2 linked regions of the Homo sapiens genome follow. The protein of the gene in region 2 interacts with the protein of the main gene of each other region in a biochemical or structural test. Each region holds a gene or a part of one and is shown on either strand. Other genes may lie near its edges.

Region 1 (10,706 bases), on a different chromosome or scaffold from region 2:
CAGGTAATTTAATAGATAGGGCAAAACTGAATGGCTGTGTTATCTGTTGTCATAAGCCTGGAAGGAGACTAGGGAGGATCAGAATATCCTGCGCTGTCTTTAGAAGAATAATTTTTGTGTTTGTGAAGGAATATTTCTTGGCCCATTGCCTTAGAGATGCTGTTTCTGAGCTTCCGAGAACATCTACGAAAGCAGTAAGGAATTCTAAAGTATATTTCCCTCATTTGGGAAATACCATTCTCCAGTGAAATTAAGCAACTGTAGAAAATCCAGGTGTTCTCCTAATGAGGCAAGCTGGATGTTTTCCCACGTGCTGTGGGAATGATGGCTTAACTAGGAGGTTTGGTCTAGGGTATGGGAATAGAACACTTTGGCTGTGCCTGCTAGTGAGTTCTGCAGCGAATCTTTGCATGTTCTGCCTGGTGTACTTGCTGAGGGGCCAGAGACGGAGGAGCAGTGGTGCTAGCAAAGGAGCCTTCTCTTCAGCCCCATTGCGTGGGCTTGTTTTCAAGAGGGAGGCCATGGGATTTGGACTACCTTTCCTCACTTTCCCATATTGCAAGCCAGTCTCTCCCTTGCACCTCCCTTCCTCTGGTCATTATGTAGGAGCTGATGGAGGATGCAGAAGACATCTGGATCTGACTAGGGGGCCTGTCAGAGACATGAGCTACACGGTGCCCCTGCAGGCAGCCCAGGATGCACACGGAGCCACATCACCTTCACTGCTTTGGTCCCGGGTGAGGGAGTTATGGCCACTTTGGTGCCTTCTTTCTCCCTGGAGCACAAAGCAAGAGCAAAGGCACCTTCTTGGTGGTTTCTGGCTATATCTGATGATGAATTTCATGACCCCATTCCATTACTGGAATAACAACCCTTTTCTTCTCGAGGTGAAATTTTCTCATCTGAGTCTTTTACAAAATCAGATGAATGATTCAGATATCTGTTTTAGAATTCACTTCCATTATATGTCTGAAAGGGCACTGTTTATGTTGGAAGTTCCATGAAAATTCCTAACCTAAACCAGCAAGACTTCTAGAGGGTGACTCTCTAAACGTTTAGTATTAGGGAGGAATATTGGGGGAGAGAAATTGCAAATTGCCCTGCAAGACACAGTGAGTTGGAGGAGCACCCCGAAATGGAGCCTTAGCCTCCAGAACCTTTCTACAAGCCCGAACAACTTCACCCAGATCTTCAGCCAGGGTTCTGACTTGACACAGCAGGGAGACATTCCCACCTGTGTGCACAAGAGTACAGATGCGCTCGCTTTCCTCCCTGCCCCGCACGCTGTTGAGGCTGATTTCGTATTCGGTAGCTGGGTTCAGTCTGGTGATGGTGAATTCTGTCACAGTGTTGGGCACCACTGAGCTGTCTAGTCGTCCCACTGGAGAAGAGAAGAATCTACAGTTAAAATTCAGCAGCCCTTTCATCCAAGCAGCCCATGGTACAGTCTATGTCAATAAAGCACAGATGGGTGTGGGACTCCGCACTCAGTGGGGAGGGATGATACATGGTTCATGGGCTGGGAATGTTGGAGTGTGAAGAGGCTTTGCACACTGGTCTCACTCCTTCATTTTATGGGCTCCTTGGAGCAAAGAAAAATGACCTACCTATTAAGTGGTTTTCTAACAAGCTGGTCTTCTCTAAGACAATGACATTAAGGCAGTGTAGAGGGCACCGATGCAAGGAGCAGTCCCCACAGTCCAGAGACAGTGTAGTCTGGAATGCTGTCCTGTGTCCTCACTGGAAGTGAGTGTGCCCTCCACTTCCTTAAAAATGCCACATGTACCAGCAAGAACTGGCAGGATGCAGGTGAGGTCTGGGCCAGTTTCCTCTGACTCATAACTTGTCTGGAGTGGCTGAAATGGGACCACATCACTGTGCTTCCCTCCAAGGCTCCATCTGGCTTTGCTGGGTCTTTAGCCATCCCTCTGGATCCTAGTCTTGAACTTCATTCTTGTAGGAATATTCATGTGACCCAAGCTCTTGGCAGATTCTTTTGGGGCTCTTTTTTTCTCAAGACACTGCCTAGATAATGGTGATCAGTTACCTCTGCTAGTGAAGGGCCTGCTCTCTGGGTGAATGTAATCAAGCCTTTCTCAAGAGGCATTGGTGAGTGTGGGGTTTCTTGGCTGCTCACCAGCCCACTCTCATTCTGATGCAGCATGCCACAGAGAAGAGGAAAAACGCAGGCAGGAGTGGATGTTCTGCGGGATATGCTAGTTCTCCCATAATCTTCACCCAAATCCTAGTATCTTTGAGAAATCAAATCACTTTGTTACCTTGGGTGGGTCGATATGATACTCGGTAGTAATCGAAAGATGCAACAGGAGGGCTCCAGGAGACCATCACTGAGTCCTTGGTCACATTGCTAATTGTGATGTCTTTTGGGGGATCAATTCCTACAAGGACCCAGTGATTGTGGGAAAAAGACAGAAAGCACAGTGTGAAAAAGAAATTCTCATCCCTGGTTTTATGTTGACCAAAAGCCAATGTTGTCCCAAAGGCAGACAAGATCTTTCCATGTAATAGGGTATCTTAAAACCATGGTCACGCTGATGTTTCACTTGAAACCTTGTAGGTATGACCAAAGCTATGTTCATGGAGAATATTTTAACAACATGAAGACAAGCTGGCAAGCTCTGTACCTGTTACCTATCTGCAAGCCAACTAGGAACTTTTTTTTTAAGTTCATATGTTTTGTTTTGAATTGGGAGAAACATAGGCATTTTCTCTGAGGTAATTTTTTAAGATAAACCAAATTTTGCCTGTATCTCTTATTCTTTAGCAGCCACCTTTGGTTTCAGTTTTGAAAAACTGCCTATTGACTATACAGGGATTTCAGAGCACAAGTCCAGAACAAATCCATTTTCCTAAATTGTATTTCATTTATGCTATGGGCTTTTTTTTTTTTTTACTGCTAGGGGATCACAGAGTTGATCAGCTAAGTGTTTAATCTACTTGTCCAGTTTGTGAGTTCTTGTTAGTAAGGAGGAAACTACCCAAACATACATATCTTCACCCACATGTACCTCATATTTGAAACTGTGTTTGGGAATAATGAGCTGGGACTGATCCAATTCATCTCTGAGTGCCTGTGTTTTCTAAGCAACATCCAAATCAACCCCATTCTCTGAGTGCCAGGTCACTACCTGATTGCATGCTAGTCCCATGTGAGACTAAGGAAGCATTATTGTACGAGTGAACTTTCTGGGCAGTTAAGAGATGGTTCTTCAGAATAGGAACAGGTGTCTCTTCACTGTAGAGGGATTCCTCTTGGAGACTAGCTTTCTCCAGTGCTTTTCTTCTAAGCTGGTAGTGGGAGGTCTTTTGGACAAATGCATTCAAGCTTTGACCTCCTCAAGACATTGACTTTGTCCCACCTTCCAAGTGGGAGTTTCTTATCTAATGCATCTTCTGCAGCACTGGAGGAAGTAGCTGTTTCAGAACAGGTCACAGACTTTCTCTAGCCATAGAGGAAATCCCCTACTCCTTGGGTCTTTCTCTTTTAAAATTTCATTGATTTGTCAAAGGCTACTGTGAAAACCCCTTTCATCACCTGCTGCCAAGTCCTCCAGCCTCACCTGTGGTGATGGAGCCCACAATGGGCTCAGAGGTCACTGTGCCATGGACAGCCACAAGGTTCACAATATACTCTGTGGCTGGTTGCAGGCCCATCAGGACAGCATGCCTCTTGGTGGCATCCAGGGAGACCTCCATCATCTCTTCCTCCTCATCCCTGGGGCTGTAGTTAAGAATGAGTCTGTCTGCTGGGGGAGATGGATCACTCCAAGTGATGTTCACACTGGAGGAGGTCACATGAGAAAAGTGCAGATGAGAGATGGGACGGAAGCCTGCAAAGCAAAGGAGATGGATGGTCCTGAAACACGTGAGGAGATGGGTCACTGGGCTAGAAGAACTTCTTGGCTAAAGGGACCTGCTCTCCTTGCTAATAAGGGCCACACCTTCACCCACTAACCAAGAGATTCCACCTCCTCACCCTCCAGTGCTGTTCACTCCACTTTTTCCAATCCAAATATAGGAAAATGGATTCTGTTAAAATGAGAACTACTTCTGTGAGTTAATCATAATACTGAACCAGGATTGAAAGCCTGTATCCTGGAATGAATTTTATATGATCCCATGGATCCTCTGAATTCCCACTGATTTACTGCAGCAGGGAAAGATGGACAGAATCAACTACTATGTCAAGGCCATAGAAAAGCCAGACACAAGTTTTCAGGCAGGTAACACTATTGCTCACCTCCCCTCTTTACTTCCAACCCTTCCCTCTTGATGCACTTATTAGTTTTTACTCTATCCTTTTCTACCCACCTCTCTTTTCTCCAAAGGAAATGGAACATTGGAAGAGTGACTTGCCTGAATGAATTTCTCACACTGAGATCCACTGATCCCTGAACCTGGCTGGGATTTCTGCTGCTCTGGTACCTGTGAAAGCATCCACAGTGGACTCCAAGCTCTGCTGCCGACCCCTCTCAGCAGTGACGGAAATGATGTACTCTGCCCCAGGCTCTAGATCTGTTAGTGTGTATGAGGTCCTGTCCTTGGGTACGGTGACTTCTGAGGCAATCCCAGAGGATGGGGTAAAGGTAATTCGGTAGTGGTCAATGGGGCCACTGGCCTTGGTCCAGATGAGGGAGATGGAGGTCTCCGAGGAGGCTGTCACCATGAGGTCTCGGGGACTGTCAAGTTCTGTGGATTGACATAAATGGCCTATTTTACATGTGTTCCCCTGGAGGGCAGTATTTATTGGCCTGCTTTGTGTGTTTCCAAGCTATCAGCAGGCCTGCTGACTATGAGCACTAGCTTGTCATTGCTGACACTTATCTAATATTTTGCTAAGTACCTTCCCTCTGAATGATGGCCAGGGGCTTGGCAAATAGATGAACAATCTGAAGAAAGCCGTGATGAGCTCTGATACCACTGGATTGCATCCACCTCTGGGACAAAGCTGGCTGCTGATTTTCAAGCTCGCCATATTCATTTTCTCCCATCCTTTCTCAATGAGCCAATAAGGATAAAATGGTAGCTACCACCAAGTAGGGATATGCCATTCCTGGCAACAGAAGCGCACCACCCTCCAACCCTGAGGCTATTTTGACTTGTTCTAACCATAGCCAGGCAGGCAGCTAGATCTGAGGACCTGGAGACTTTTGTCCATGTGGTTCTCTAGAGAGGCTGAACCTTGGGACAAGGACTGGTCTAAAATCCCTAGCCCAGCCCAGGCTGCTAGTACCATAGGTGCTGAAATGACTTTGAAATTTACCCAGGATTTGGAAGCAAAACTGCTGAATCCAGAGCAGCAAGGGTCTCAGCTGGACTTTTCTTCTGCCCTCAGATTTAATGGGTTGTTGCAAGTCTAGACCTTCACCCAAGTGGCGTTTGTGAGGACCTCTGTGGTGTATGCAGGGCGAGGATGCCCCATTCTGCCTGCTGTCGGGGTGGTCTAGATAAAAATATGGCCTGCAATGGCATCAACCTATTTAGGATTTTCCACCTCTGCTCTGTACAGCCCTGAGCAGCTCTTCAGACCACGGGGGACCGAGCACAGGTCTGTGGGGAAGAGGGTGACTCTGTCCTGCCTGTCAGAGATCAAGGATTAGGCATAGGGTGGATGTTGTTTCTAGGCTGACAGTTGTCACCAGAGCCCTGTTCACTGGAAGACATTGCTTTCTGATTAATTTTTGCTGGGACGAGCCTCCATGACTCCTTAGGCTTATAGGCTAACCTGGTCTTCTTCCTCAGCAGTCCTCCTACTCACCAGTCCTGGCATTCATGGTGGCTGGCACGCTTTGCTGTGAGTTCATGACGGCAGATATTCCAACTCCATACTCAGTGCCAGGTACCAGATCTATCAGTGGATGGAGAAACAAACATTATTCTGTGTATGGGGCAGGGCTAGGAAGGCTGAAAGTGGGAAGAAAATGATCTTAGACTCCTATTCATATCTTGTGTTTAGTCCTCCTTGAATCCTCTCCTAATTTGAACTATTAAGAAATCCCAATTTCACTATTTAGGAATCCCAAGTCAATAGGATGAACCAGCCCACGCAGAGCTTCCTTCTTGCAGGCAGGCTCTCTGGGAAGGCAGTGAGGCTGCCTTGTCAGTGACCTTCAGAGGTGTGCTCACATAAGTATACAAGGACTCCTTGTATGCTTAGCGTCTCAGGTTGGCTTGAACCAGCGAGAGGATTTCTTGCTTAAATTGTGAATTTCGGGAGTATGTAATCAAGAGAGACAGTGTGGACATAGACCTGAAAAGCATTCCTTGAATGTTATATACAAGGACCAAGCTACACCTTTTACAGGAGCTGAGGCCATATGGGGACTCCTGGGTCCCTTCTAGGGAGGAACAGTGGATGGACTTTTTTTTCTAAGCACAGGGCTGTCGAGTAGGAGCATGCAGAAGTCCTGTTGCTGTAGGCCCCCCGCCAAGTTCAGTAATTCAGGCCTCAGGGTATCTAAAGCTGTGGATCTAATTTTAGAATAACTTTCAGGGGAGTCCAGGAAGACAGAGGAGACACAAAAACTGTCCCACTAAAGGGTGTAAGCTTCTCTGAGGAAATCCTTTGGGAGGTTTACTACAAAGGATCTCTGAGAACCTCCTAGAATATCTGGAATTCTCTAGGTTCTCTCCTTGACCTCTTTCACATTTATTTTCAGACTAACTGGTTTGACTGGTGTACTAGTTTCCTATTGCTGCTGTAACACATCACCACAATTTAGTGACTTACAACAACAAAAGTGGATTCTCTTACAGTTAGTTCAGGAGGTCTGCAGTCTAAAGTAGTTCAGCAGGGCTGCCTTCCTTCTGGAGGCTCTAGGAGAAAATCCATTTCCCTGCCTTTTCTAGCTTCTAGAGGTTGCCTGCATTCTTTGGTTCATGGTCTCTTAATCTATCTTCAAAGCCAGAAGCTTGAAACGATCAAATCTGTTTTCTCTGTCTGACTTCTGCTCCTATCATTGCATCTACTCTGACTCTGACCTCCCTACATCCACTTATGAAAATCCTTGCGATCATGTTGGTCCCACCTGGATAGTACAGGCTAGTCTCTCCTTCTCAAGATCTTTAACTTAATCACACCTGCAAAGTCCTTTTTGCCCTGTAAGGTGGTTATATTCACAGATGCTGGGGATTCTTTGAGGGCTATTTCATCTATTACAACTGGCATCAAACTCATTTTTATCTATTAGGACTGGGGTTGTAGAAAAACCCAACAAAGGCAGGGCACGGTGGCTCATGCCTGTAATCCCAACACTTTGGGAGGCCAAGGCGGGTGGATCATCTGAGGTCAGGAGTTCGAGACCAGCCTGACCAATATGGTGAAACCCATCTCTACTAAAATTACAACAATTAGCCGGGTGTGGTGGTGTGCACCTGTAGTCCCAGCTATTTGTGAGGCTGAGGCAGGAGAATCGCTTGAACCTGGGAGGCTGAGGTTGCAGTGAGCCAAGATCATGCCACTGCACTCCAGCCTGGGTGACAGAGTGAGACTCTGTATCAAAAAAACAAAAACAAACAAACAAGTAAACAAAAACAAAACAAAAAAACCCAACAAAATCAAGTGATCACCCTGAGGGCCTCCAGTGGTCAGTCTGAGTCCTTCCGGTAGGCTCTTTTTGGGGCTTTGTGTGGGCTCATGGCTGATTGGAATGGTATTCTGTATTTATATAACATCTGTGCTTTTCAAAATGGATTGTGTTTTAGAGTCTCATCACAACCTTGGGAGGAAGGTGGGATAAGCAGTCTTTTCTCCATCTACATTAGCTTCCTGTGGATGCTGTTATAAATTACCACACACAGTGTGGCTTAAAACAGACATGTGTCCTCCCACGGTTCTGAAGTCTGGAAGTCCGAAATCAAGGTGTCGCCAGGACCATGCTTCCTCTGAAGGCTCTAGGAGACCTAGGTTCTGGTGGTTGCCAGCACTCCCTGGCATTCCTTGGCTTGTAGTTGCGTCACCCCAGTCTCTGCCTCTGTAGACACATGTGTGTCTGTGTCTTCCCCTCTTCTTATAAACACACCAGTCACATTGAATTTAGGGGCCACCCTAATCCAGTATGACCTCATCTTAACTCTACTGCATCTCTAAAGACCTTATTTGGAAATAAGGGTTTGGGGTGGACATGCATTTTGAGGGGACTGTTATTCAACAGAGTACATCATCTTTTTATAAAAAGAAACTGTGGCACGGAGTAAGTCTGTGACCAGCTAGAGATGCCCCCCCGGATTCTGGTCTCAGAGTTCAGGGCTTTTAGGAGGAATGGGACATCCTATTACTTCCTTCCACCGCTCAGGGCAGCTGTGATTTCTCTGGAATCCCTGATTTTGATCGGAAATACTTTGAGCAACATTCCTTTAACAAATGGCTTGGCTTGGTCAAGAGGAATGCTGCCTGGCAGCCAGGGGGTTCTTCATCCCCTTCCTCAGTAGGCTTTTGTGGAGTCCATGCAATAAATGTTGCTTAAGCATGGCAGAGCTTACCAGGCCAGTTTCTCTCCCAGGAATGCAGTCCCGAAGCCCTGTCTGGGTAGGCATTCGAATCAGCCCTCTTTTTTCTCTTCTTAAACCAGCTCCCTTTCTTTCCCAACCCTTAATTCTTTCTTTCTCTAAAGTGGCAACACCAGTGGAGGTAAACTTTGAAGTTTGACAGACTTTGACGTCTGACATATCTATATTTGGTCTCTTTCACTTTTTACCTGTGTAATTTTGATTACTTAACATCTATGAACCTCAATTTCTGAAGAATGAGAATAAAAACAGCATCTATATCAGAGGGTCATCATGAGGATTATATGAGTCAAAGTGTTTAAAGTCCAGTGCCTGGATCTTAGCGGTAGTAGCTAGTATTTTATTACTTTGCACAGAGAACTATTCCTGGATTTTGAGTACTTTTTTTTTTTTTTTTTTTTTTTTTTTTTTTGGTGAGTGGTCTCATCAACTACAAAAACCGCCCCAGGCAAGTACAGGCCGGTCCTGGGTGCACCTGTTGACTTCTTGTTATTGGTTTGCTGGGGCTTAGCCTGTTGGCTCTGTTGGAAACCAGTGATTCAGGGAGTCCAGGTGGCAGTGAGGACCTTCTCCCTGGCTGGGCCAAGTACCTATCTCTAGATTGAGTGGGTGATTGCAATACCCCCTGATCCATTTGAAGCACACATTTATCTCCATCAATATGTTCAGTGAGTTCCAGGTACATCCTTGGTTGCAGAAATGAGATTACCTTTGGGACATAAACTACTTTTATCAGGCAACTGATTAAGACCTTCAATTGCCTATAATGAAGTAGAAATTCTCCAACATAGATGAAGGGTGACAGATGGAGGGAGTAAGACAGAAATTATACGTTGCCAAACAGATCTAACATGTAACATTTTCATCCCAGTTTCTTATTTATGAAGCTTAAATGAAATGTTCAATAATTTACAATGGAATCATCTTCTCCCAGAAAACTGCAGAGCAGAATTTAATGTGTTCTCTTCCCAGGTTTTCTGTCTAGAGGATGGAAAAGTGGGACTTGCTTATAGGTTTGTGCCTGCTGCTTTCCTTTGATTTTCAGCAGCTTTCTTCCATGCTACAAGTGAATTGTTGCTCTTTGCCAGCAGGTTAGACACAGTTCTGCTGGAAAAAAAAAAAAACCACATGTATCCGAGGCATAGCCAGTGCACTTAGATATCAGCACTCTGAGTACTCCTAGGGATTTCTCACTTTTTAAAGACCCCATTGCTCTCTATCAATGCCCCCTTTATCTCTCCATCCAACTCCTGCAAGTGGTAACATATAAATGGCCCTGTTCCCTTTCTTAACAATAGCACAGAAAATTCATCCCATAGGAAATCACTACTCTCTGTTCCTTATAGAACTTTCTTTGTTCAACTTGGAGGTTGATGCTTTTCTCAACTCTTTCACCTCACACCCATTCTTCTTGGAACCCCTAAAGCACAGTCATACATTCAACAAATATTAAGGGCCTCCTTTGTGTCAGACACAAGGTGGTGTGAGCTGAACAAGACATTAGCCTTGCCTTTTGGGGGTGAAAAGGAATCTGTGCTAAAAAAGTAAAATAATTATTTAGTGAGCACCCATAATATGCCTAGCACTAAGCTACATGGAAAAGAATAATGACGAAGGGGAGGGAAGAAAAAGAGAAGTAAAAAATGAAGACTTTTTGAGTGTCTGATGGTAAAGAGTTATGCAAGTATTACTGAGCTTCTTAAAGATTCACACGTTATTTAATTTCCCTGAAGCACTACTGATAGGGTATTGCAGATGAGCAAACAGGGGCTCCAAGAAGTCTATTCCTTGGCCAAGGTCACAAAACTGATACATGATACAACTAGGTTTGGAACCCAAGTCTCTTGTTATTTTCTGACTCATGATAGCATGGTTCCCATCCCTGAGTCTTACAGGCCAGGAGGAAGGAGTGGAGTAAGCAACTTGGAATTCGAGAGTGATTTGGTACCTGTTATAGTTTGGATGCTTGTCCCCTCCAAATCTCATATTGAATTGCCATCCCCAATGTTGGTGGTGGGGCCCAGTGGGAGGTGTTTGGGTCATGGGGGTGGATCCCTCATGAATGGCTTGGAGCTGTCCTCCAGATAGTGAGTGAGTTCTCGTGAGATCTGGTTGTTTAAAAGTGTGTGGCACCTCCCCCCAACCCTTGCTCCCTCTCTCATTGTGTGATGCGCGGG
Region 2 (11,070 bases):
CTGGGAACACGACATATTCTGTGATGAGAACCTGAAGGTCTAGATCCCAGTCCAGATTCTTACCAACCTGCTCTGGGGCAGCAGCCTGGGGCATATCCTTCCCCTCTTTGGGCCTAGGTCCCTTTTGCGATCTCTTAAATGAGGACCATCACAGGCCTGGAAGGCCCTGGGCATCTGTGATCTGGGGACTGCCAGAGACCAGGGAGCTGAGGGAGGCTGTCTCCCAGGTCAGGCATTGCAGATCTGCCATGTCCTGTGTTTCTCCTTCTTACCCTCACCCCTCCAGTCAAATCAATTACAGAAAGACAGGCACCCCCGCCCCCACATACACCAAAATAGTGACCTACACAGAAGAGGTGGCTCCTTTTTTGAGTGTGTATCTTAAGAGGAAAAACATGTAACCTCAAAGGTAACCAAATATCCAAATCGTGATGCCCAGCATCACACACCCCAAATCCACCTATTCATGAGTTTAACAAAAAGCTTCTTTAGGATACACTGTAAGGCCATTGAGAGGGAGAGAAGTCACCTCTCACAGGCCTGGCCAGCCCGCAGGGCCCGCCCTGCCAGCATGCACACACACACACACACACACACACACACACACACACACTCCACCACTTATAAGGAGGCTCTGAGTTTTTAAAAGTAAACTCCACCGTTTCCGTTCTTGCCCTGGATTCAACTTTTGAAAAAAGAAACCGTTTTACCGTTTTCTCTACAAATTCCCCCTCTCTGGTCCTCCTCTCGCCTGCACTCCCGCTCCTTCTCCAGCCCTCCCCTTGTTCTGCCGGCCTCCCAGTGGCCCTTCTTCAACTGCGTCCAGGGGCCCAGACTCCCTCGCAGGGATGGCTGTGTCCTGTTGGATCTGGGGGAAGGGGAGCTGCCACTCCCAAAGTAGCTGTCACAGAAACGGGCCCTTCATCCCATTGAAGGGGCTTCCTTTAAGTTATCAGGGCGGCAGTGCGGCTACCATCAGGACACGAAGCATGGCCACGAGGCCAGGCCGTTGACAGCAGGAGAGGAAGGCTCCTGTTCCCAAGATGTGCTCCTGATCCCCTTTCCCAGGGCAGCTGCTGGCCTGTCCCCTCCCCTGCTCTACTTATAAGCAGACCTTCCTCCATGCCCTGCTTCCTCTCTGACTCTGGGTCCTCTTCCTTGAACTTGCCTTTCCCCAACTCCAGCTTCCACCTCAGCTGCCTTGACTCCCCAGCACTTGGTGCAGTGGCAGCAAGGATGCCCCAGCACCTGCCACCTAGGGCCACAATGCTGAAATTTCTGAGACAGAAACATCATTGGGACCAATATAGTAAAAAAAAAATTAAATAAAAATATATGCAAATATCAAATTTGTATATATTTGCATATATACATTTATATTATAAACATACATACCCTTATAGAGGGCTTCAAAATAAATAACAGAAACAAAAGTTTCCAGAAACAGTACTTACCTTTGCTACATAGGAGGCACTATGAGATTATCTGGTATTTCCTATTTTATTAAGAACCCCGCTAAATTGATCTCACAACCTGCAGTTGGACAAATCTGGTGCTAGACATCCCTGCAGCAGCAGAGACAGACTCAAAGTGGGACTCTAGGCAGGGTCTCATGGGCTTCCTTTGGCTCAGCTGAGGTCCTCCTAAGGGCCCAATAAGAAGGGTCTTGGGAGGAACCCAGTTCTAGAAGGAATCATTAAAAAGAAATTCACTGGCTGGGCATGGTGGCTCACGCCTGAATCCTAGCATTTTGGGAGGCTGAGGCAGGCGATCACCTGAGGTCAGAAGTTCGAGACCAGCCTGGCCAACATGGTGAAATCTCGTCTGTACTACAAATACAAAAATTAGCCGGGCGTGGTGGTACACAAGTAACCCCAGCTACTTGGGAGGCTGAGGCACAAGAATCACTTGAACCTGGGAGGCGGAGGTTGCAGTGAGCCAACATTGGGCCACTGCACTCTAGCCTGGATAACAGAGCAAGACTCCCATCTTAAAAAAAAAAAAAAAATTCACACCAAAAGTTAGGACACACAGTCTCTTATCAAGAGAAAACATTTGAAATTTTTGCTATCCATAACTTGGGGTTTGTGACCCACAAGGGGGCTTAGGAGCTGTTAGAGGAGAGGAATTAAAGTTTGTGGTGCTTGCTGAGAGCTGGACAAGGCACCCACTTTATGTCTTTTAATCTTCACAAAAATCTCTTATCGGAGGATTTTCTCCCCTTTTTAGAGAAGAGGAAATGAAGCCTCTGGGAGGCTCAGTACCCTTATCAAAGCCATGTAGCCAGCGAGTGGCTGAGCTGGAATTTGAATCCCAGTCTTCCTTGCATGCAGGCTGTCCACCCTCCTGGCTCTTGCCGACTGTCTCAGGAGGTGAGCTCTCTCTTGGAGCTCCCTCTCTAATTGGGGAGGGGGCATAAGAGGAGGAGAACGCTCTGCCTTGGCATGCAGGGGTGAGTGGCTGCCTGGGATTGGGCGTGTGGGTGTGAGAGAGATGGGGAACAGGGGCAAGAGGTGTGCCTGGGTGTGTGGAGGGCTTCCGAACATTAAACAAAATATTCCCTTTTAAGTATGATTGTCAGTGAATATTCTAGAAAAAGAAAAACATTCATTTACTACTAGAATTAAGAATGATAATAGTAATATTAATAATATGAAACAGTTACTGAGTACTTGCCCAGTGCCAGGCACTACGCTAAGCCCTTTGCTTGGGTCATCTCATATCTGCTGTTTATTGAGTACCCGCTGTGGGCCAGCATTGAGCACAGAGCCTGGCACCTAGGTGGCGCTCAGCAGATATTGGAGAATGAATGAAAATACCAGGCACAGCACTAGAAACTACACGTAAGAATATCTAAATTAAACACAGCTCAAGGTAACCTGTGGAATTCCAGCATCTCTCCAAGAGATATCTTCTTCCTTTGGACAATTCCTTCTTCTGAAACTTTTTATACTGGGGAGATCTACTATTCTGCAATCTTTCTTTCAGGTTAGAACCTCTCCTCCCCACTGCCGCTCAATGCTTCCTCCCCCAACGAGCTTCAGGGTTTTCTTCCCCATTGCCTTTCCATTTCCTGCAGTTTCTCCCTGGAGCCTGTGATTGACAAGCCAACACTCCTAAACCGTATCTTCATAGTGCCTCCAAACCCACCTTGCCCAGGGTGCATGAGCAACCTGATTGCTCCTTGTCCATGGCAACCCAGGACAAGAAAGAGAGATAAGGATTAGAACCCAAGAATTCTGGACTCTTAAATCAGGACGAGGGACCGACTATGGCCTCAGAAAACCTGGATTCTAGTTCTGCCCTTGACCCTAAGTCACAGTTCAACCTTCAGAAATTCATTGCACCTTTCTGGGTCCACTTGCCCTCCTCTTCAGACGAGGTGGGTGAATTTTCAAGGTCCAGAGTCCCCTCTAAACTGTCAGACACCCACCCACTGCAGCACCCAGGACCCCAAAACACCGTGCTAACCCAATTCAGCTTTGTATTTTCCTCCTGGCAGCCAGCCCCACAGAACCAGAATTTACACATCAGTCAACATGCTGGAACTCCAGCTTCTTCATGGTGAAACCCTAGTAGGATCCTGTCAGAACCCAGCTCATGACTGAAAGGAGGATAATGATGGAAAAGTTTGGGTTGGATCCTGTCTCACAACCAGAGACAAGCCCCCACCCCCGCAGCTTGCTCTGCCCAGAGTGTGGTTCAGTTGACATACTGACAGCCTCCAACCCAGCCCCAGGGTTGGAAAGGGCTCCTGCTCCACCAGCATTGGCTTCGTTTGAAGAGGAACCCACAGACGGAAAAACCGCTCGTGGTCGTGTGTCCTCAACTCCCCTCCCCTTTCTTCCTTGAGAAATGCCCCTTCTTGGTTGGACACCCGTGTGTTCAGGGCACTGCTCTCCTCTCCCCTGCTGGCAGTTCAGTAGCTCTGTCCCAGGTTCTGCCACTCTCCCCTGGGCAGACTCTTCAGGCACTCTGGTCCCTGGAGTAAGCCAAGTGGCCAAGGATGGACTATCTAGCCTCGGCTTAGGACCCGCTGTGTCCCTGACATAGTGTCCATATGATTTCATTTATTCTTCCAGACCCCGCGAAGGCCTTTTCCCTCTCAGCTGACAGACGGCAGGCCAAGGCTCAGGAAGGTGAAGCACACCTTCCAGCTCAAAAGTAGCACCTCGGGGATTTGAACCCACATTCCCTTGACTCTGAAGCTGCTACTCTGTCAACCATGGGTCTTTCCAGACCCTAGGATTTAAAATCACCTAGGTGTTTGGAGAAAAGGCTCCCTTGTTCCTTCATCCTGGCGGACTAGGAGACAAGTGCCCCTCCTCACGTGTTCCTTTGCCCCATTCACTGAGTCTGCAACAGCCAAAAAGTTTGCTCAACTCCACCGCGGACGCAGCCGGTGGATGTGCTGCGCCCCCGGCACACATAGCTCTAGGGCGGAGACCAAGGCAGTGCAGCCCCCAGCCCCGGGGCGTGCAGTCTCAGTCCCGTTCCTGGCTCGCCGGGCGCCCTGGGAGAGCCTCGCTCTGGAGGGAAGGAGACAGTTACCTTGAAGAGTTGGACTCCCTTCTCCAAGAACTTCAGTCCCACACACCTGGCGAGGCAGCTGGGGGCTCCTGGGGCCGGGAGGCCCGGGTCTCGCTGCGTAGCGAGGGAGACGCTCTGCGCGGGCGCTGCGCACCCCTCCTCCTGCCGGCGTCCTGTCCGCAGGTCCCCTCGGGCTGTGGCCGCAGCGGCAACTGCTGGGTTGCGGAGTCCTGGCTGGCTGAGGGAATGGACACTGAAAGGTGCCCGGAGACCCTGGCACCCGCGTCAGACGCCGGCCGGCGAGGGTGCTGAGAGAGAGAGACCTTGAGCAGCGCTGCGCGCGTCCTCAGCTCTGCGAGCCCCCTCTGGAGCGGCGGGGAGGTAGGTGGGCGGGCGGGCGGGCATGGCGCGCTGTGACACATACATAGGGACGGGCGGGGGAGGGGAGGGCCCGTGAGGGGTGGGGGCGGGAGGGGGCGAGCGCAAAGGGAAACCCCACCCCCAGGGACCGAGGGGCGGCCGACAGGGGGAGGGGAAGGCAGAGGCGTCTGGAGCGCGCTGGACCCTGGCTCCGGACCGGCGCGCCGATGGGGAAGCCGGCCTGCGCTCAGGGCGGGAGAGGAGCGCTCCCCGGGGCGGCGCGGACCCGGCAGCTCCGGGGCTGGCGGGAGGAAGGCGGCGCGAGAAGGGCTGGAGGGCCCGCATCTGCATTGCGGTCGGCAGCTCCGCAGTCGGAGGGGCCCAGGAGGGCTGCACCCTCAGAGAATCCCCAAGTGCCCGGACTCTGAGGCCGCCGCGGCGGGACAGGGCTCCCGGGCGCCCGGCGGGGTTCTGCAGCTGAGGCTGGCCACGACGCGATCTAAGGAGGGTGCAGCCCGCTACTGTCGGCCACGATTTGGAACGACCCTCACCGAGGAGCTGGCTGAAAGTTTTTTTGGGGGTGGCGTACACCGGGATGGCAGGGGATGGTGGAGAGGGGGAGGTAAGGCGTCAGCGGGGAGGCTCACGGGGAGCTGCGAGTCTCTGGGTCTTCAAATTCCCCGGGAGAGACCAAGGACATCTCATATGAAGCAGGAATTCTCCAGTGTCTCTACAGTACTCTTTAATACCGTTTTCAGGAAAAGGAGAAAAAGAACTAGCAGCTTTTGAATCCCTCCTATGAGCCCGTTGTGTAACATACATTAACATTTCATTTAATTTTTCCAAAGAGCCCAACAAGGTAAATATGGCAACTTCCCACCTGCCCCTAACCAAAGATGTGAAAACTGAGGCTCAGAAAGTGGTGGAGATCCCTCTTGAAGGTGGGACTGAGTTCGAGTCCCAGGTCTTGTGCTCTCTGCTACACAGGCTGCTGGTTGAGCCACAGCACCTTCGGAGGACTCAAGCTGGCTGGTGACCTTCAGAGTTCTTGTGGAGGAAGCTGGTGGTGCTTCACACCAGGATGTGGTGGCCACAGTCAGGATGGTGGTGGAAGCTTCCTGACCCTCTCATTGGGCAAGAAGAGGAAGAAGTGGAATCTTTCGGGACTCCCCACTACAGAGATAATAGACCACACTTTAATCAGTTCCTTGATGAAAAGGAACTGAAGTGCCTCGGTTTCCCCAGGGCGACTCCACTGGAATTATGTGGTTATTTTACTGGCCATCTCTGCCTGGGGGCGGGACTGGCCCTGGCCCAGCACATGCTCTGTGAGCCGCCTGTCTCTCCCCTGTCCAGGGCAGTGAAGCCCCGTCGGAGGGAGCATAGTGCCCACTCTATCCACCCACCTCTCAGAGCAATGGCTAAAGTGTTCCAGTGGTTGGCCATTCTTGATTTCACCCTTTTTCTACCTGAGCGTATTGAGTCAGGTCTGTAAGTCTTGAAGCATTTAGGACACAGACAAAATGCTGGTGACCGAAGCCCCTTAGGGGGTGATAGTGGCTTCTCTCACAGATAAAGAAATGAGATGAGGCCGGGCGCAGTGGCTCACGCCTGTAATCCCAGCACTTTGGGAGGCCGAGGCGGGCGGATCACGAGGTCAGGAGATGGAGACCATCCTGGCTAACACGGTGAAACCCCATCTCTACTAAAAATACAAAAAAATTAGCCGGGCGTGGCGGCGGGCGCCTGTAGTCCCAGCTACTCAGGAGGCTGAGGCAGGAGAATGGCGTGAACCCGGGAGGCGGAGCTTGCAGTGAGCTGAGACGGCGCCACTGCACTCCAGGCTGGGCGACAGAGCAAGACTCCGTCTCAAAAAAAAAAAAAGAGATGAAATCTTAATAGTTACTGGCCTCAATGCCTGGAACAGGGAGAAATGACCCTCTGGGAAAAAAACAGTCCCTGAAATTCCAACGAGGTCATGGATTCTCATGCCTGTGTTTACCTGATGCCTTGTGGGAGAACAAATTGCTCTCATTTGTAAAATGGGTTCATGTCAACATTCATCCTAGGGCAGGTGGGGTTAATGAAGAACAAGTCAAGGGCAAATATTAATTAGGCGATTTATCTTTGTATTGAAGGGAACAAATGTTTATTGATCATCTGGTTTTGTAATGAGTCTAAGAAACATATATTGGGCACCTATTATGTGTCAGATGCTGCTTGGTACAGCAGCCTCTCAGATGGATGCCATTCCCATTTACACACTAAGAAACCAAGACTCAGAGGCCATCAAGGTAGTGAATGGGATTGGAGTACAGGCTGGTATGAATTCACACTCCCTAGCCCTAAAGGATACAAAAAACCCAGGATAATGGCAACGCATTTGGACACTTTAAAGACAGTATTCAGAGAGTCAAAGGACATGCGTGTCAGAAGGCCCTTGGTGGCATACACAGGCTCTTCCTGTCCAACTCAGGAGCTCTGTTCCAGTGTAATATTTCTGAAGCTGGTCATCTCCTCTTCTGCTAGAATACTTTACAGTTGCCTAATGCCTTTTCCAGGCTGCCCGATGCAGTCTGCTGTAAACTGGCAATTTCTAACCTCTTGCTGCTCAGAGTATGTTCTATAGACTGGCAGTGTCACCTGGAAGCTTATTCAAAATGCAGAATGCCAGGTTCCCCAGACCTACTGACTCACAATCTGCATTTTAACAAGATCCCTCCCGTGTTGTATATGCCTGCTGAAGTTTGAGAAGCACTGTGCTGACATCATTCAGCAGGTTCTACTCATTCAATCACAAATCACAGAATAAGAGAATCTCAGAGCTGGGAAGAGCTCTTGGAGAACTTTAAGGACACCCCTCCATAGAGTATGTCAGTCCTGTCCATGATGTTTCCCTCAAGTAGGACATCAGACTCTGCTTGGATGTGGCCATGAGTTTGACTCCCTTCTGAGGCCACATCCATTTTTTTCACGTGGTTCTTGTATTTAGGCAGCTTTCAGCTTTCACAGAAGCTCATGCCCAATACTGTGGATTCAGCAGTGAACAAGACAGGCCCATTTCCATCCCCCCAACCCTAACCTGTCCCAGGACCTCCTGCCACGTGATAAACCTTTCTGTTTGGAATCAGTGATCTCAAGTCTCTCCCTTCTCCCTTTTGGATTGGGTCCAGAGGAGAGCTCACCTCAATAACCTGGGTCCTGTGCTTCTGGTAATGCAGCCAACATTTATGTGCTTTTATGACAGCCTCATCATGACTCATTTGGAGCCTGCAGCCAGCTCAGACTTCCTTTTCACAGTGCTTCTGCCACCTAGCATCTCCTTTGGCTTATCCTGGTACAATGGGTTTTTCCAATCCAAGTGTGGGGCTTCATTTTTGCTTCTTTTAAACATTACACTAACTAATTCAGTTTACTACTTCAGATCATCTTGGATTCTGACTCTATTATTCTGTGTGTTTGCCATTCCTCTTAGCAGCAGACATTCTACAAAGCTAACTAGTGTGCCACTTCTATGTTTTCATTCAGGCTGCTCATAAAAATATTGCCTGGGACGGAGATTAGGGCTGAGTTCTAGAGCAGAGCACTAGAGACAGCCCCCCTGGAATGAACGACATAATCCGATATTCCAGTTATAATGGCTGTGTAACAAATCACCTCAAAACTGAGTGTCTTAAAACAATAGTTATTTAATATCTCTCATGGTTTCTATGGATCGGGAATTTGGGAGAAACTTCGCCAGGCAGTTCTGGCCTGGACTAGCTCTTGAAGTTGTAGTCAGATGTCAGTTACAGCTGCAGTTAGCTGAAAGCTTGACTGGGGCTTGAGGATCCATGTCCAAGGTGGGTCGCTCACGTGATTGGTGAATTGGTGCTGGCTGCTGGCCAGTGACCTCATTTCATCTCCATAGGGCCTCCCGATGGAGCTGCTTGAGTGTCCTCATGACATGGCAGCTGGCTTCCACCACAGTGAGTGACACAGGGAGTGCAGTGCTTCTGTGTCATAGCTTTGGAAGTCCCACACAGGGCCAGCCCTGAACTAGTGTGGGAGGGTCATACAGGATGTGAATACCAGGGGATGGGGATCACTGGGGGCATCTTGGAGGCTGGCTTCTACACTCCATTAAACTAACTCATAGAGCATGGCCAGTCCCCCCATCCATCTGACTGTATTACCATGGAGTGCTTATTTCTGTCCCATACATGGGGACACCATGAAGGTACCTTGCTAAGTCCCAATATAAGGTGCTTGCAGAATTCCTCTGAAGCATTCATTCCAAACTCTTTTACAAGTGAGTGGCCCAATTCTGCTCTCTAGAGCAACACAGTCTGCCCCCATTTCAACAGGGGCAGCCTCCAGTTAGTGCAGGAGGGTTCTCACATCACCCTTCATGTCTCTCCTCACAGGGTCTTTGACTGTTTCCCAAGGGAGTGTTCTTCTGGAGTTTGCTTCTGGATTCCTCACTCTCTGCGAACCTTGTTTGTGGATGCCCCTCAAAAATGCAATGCCCGGCATTAGATGCACAAGCCCAGGTGTGGACTGATTAGAGGGGAGCCAGGACAACTCTTTTCTCTAACCATTTGGATATTCTGCTCCTACCGGTATGGCCAAACATCGTTGAGTTTCAGAACTACATCTCACTGTTGCTTGATATTTAATCTTGCAGGCAATTAAAATGAAGACTGTTTCCATGCGGGCCCCCGTGAAAGGGATTCCTGTGTATCTCAAGCAACAAAGAGAGCTGTGGAGCAAGGAGATTCCCTGTGTAATCGGGAGCACTGGATGTGAATCCCAGGTCTGGCATGGGAACCTTGGGTGAGTTTCTTAACCTCTCTGGATTTTGGTTTCACATCTGTAAAATGGAGCTATCTTATGGAATTGTTGTGAGAATTAAAATAAGATATGGAATGTCAGCCCCTAGTAACTGATCTGGCTCAAAGTGCAAGGATGGTTAATTTTCTTCCTTCCCCCTAGCCCCCACAATTTGGTGTGCCTGAGTAAGTACATTCTCTCCTGTGTGCTGTTTTCTGTGTTTGTAAAAGAAGCTAAAAATACCCACCTCATAGGAGTGTGGCAACAATGAATACTATATGTAATATGTGTAGAGAACGTTGTGATCCTTTTTGGAAGCAAAGGGCCATAGAAACATGATATAGAAAAGCCTTCTTATAGCAGAACTGGGCCAGGGAGTGGAGTCTAGTGAGAACTAGTGGAACACTTGAAAAGTGCTGTTTTATTACTTTAACACTGTACTAGTGGCAAAGTAGGAGGGAAATGTTATAATAAAGAACATGGAGACAGTTAATGAAACACTCACAAGCCTCCACGGGTCTGTGTGGAATAATGACATACAGTAACGGGAAAGTGCTGTGTCACCAAAGACATAGAAATTGAAGGGCACGTTTAAGGAAACTCTCTTAAAGCTTCAGTTTCAATTTTTTTTTTCTGAATTCATAGCAGATTCTTATTTTTAGTAAAACCCTACCATTTATAAAAGAGGAAATTATGGCAAGCATTTTATTCATTACTCACTAGTGTTTTTTTTTTTATCATTGAGAATACTCAGTGAGTGATGCTGAGTGGAATGTTACGTATCACCATCATCATCAGCATCCATCCCACCACCATCATCACAACCACCACCACCACCATCATCATCATCATCATCATCAACAGCTTTTTCCAAGCAAGTCTGGAATAAGAAGAGAAGTCGGAGGATTTAGGCTTTGTACTTCCTGGCAGCCCCAGCCCCTGAGGCTCATGCGATCCTGCTCACCTTCTCTCCCTGACCCCGAACCCTAAGGGGCTCCCGCACTCCAGATCGTAGCTGGCTCTTCTCTATTCTTTTCCTTATTCCAGCCATTAGAGTCTTTTGGGACTGGCTTCTCAACCTTTGTCACATTGGGCTTGATATTTTTAGTTTCTTTCAGTGGTAAATATTAGATTATTCAGAAAAATTGTTGTCCCAGATTTCCACACATGATGGTATAGATACAGAATATACACTTATAAAATAAGCAGAAATGATATCTCATGAACATTTGCTAGAATTGAAATAGAAGAGGTGCAGGCAGCATCCCCATAGCTTAAAAATGATCTGCTAAGATGTGGGCATGACTTTTCCCCACAAAACTTGCCACTCATTTGATATTATAGTGCGGGGGAATAGTCTTCCTGACA

The links.
Region 1: the proteins of ACAN (region 2) and TNR form a complex in vitro, tested with the Homo sapiens proteins (one study listed by BioGRID).

Annotation. Positions count from the first base shown.
Region 1 is NC_000001.11:175,361,429-175,372,134, forward strand, and holds part of TNR (tenascin-R isoform 1 precursor), read right to left. Parts: intron 5,870-10,706; coding exon 5,780-5,869; intron 4,711-5,779; coding exon 4,447-4,710; intron 3,852-4,446; coding exon 3,582-3,851; intron 2,400-3,581; coding exon 2,280-2,399; intron 1,382-2,279; coding exon 1,235-1,381; intron 1-1,234. UniProt on the Homo sapiens protein: Neural extracellular matrix (ECM) protein involved in interactions with different cells and matrix components.
Region 2 is NC_000015.10:88,797,291-88,808,360, reverse strand, and holds the start of ACAN (aggrecan core protein isoform 3 precursor), read right to left. Parts: upstream 4,926-11,070; 5' UTR 4,552-4,925; intron 1-4,551. UniProt on the Homo sapiens protein: This proteoglycan is a major component of extracellular matrix of cartilagenous tissues. A major function of this protein is to resist compression in cartilage. It binds avidly to hyaluronic acid via an N-terminal globular region.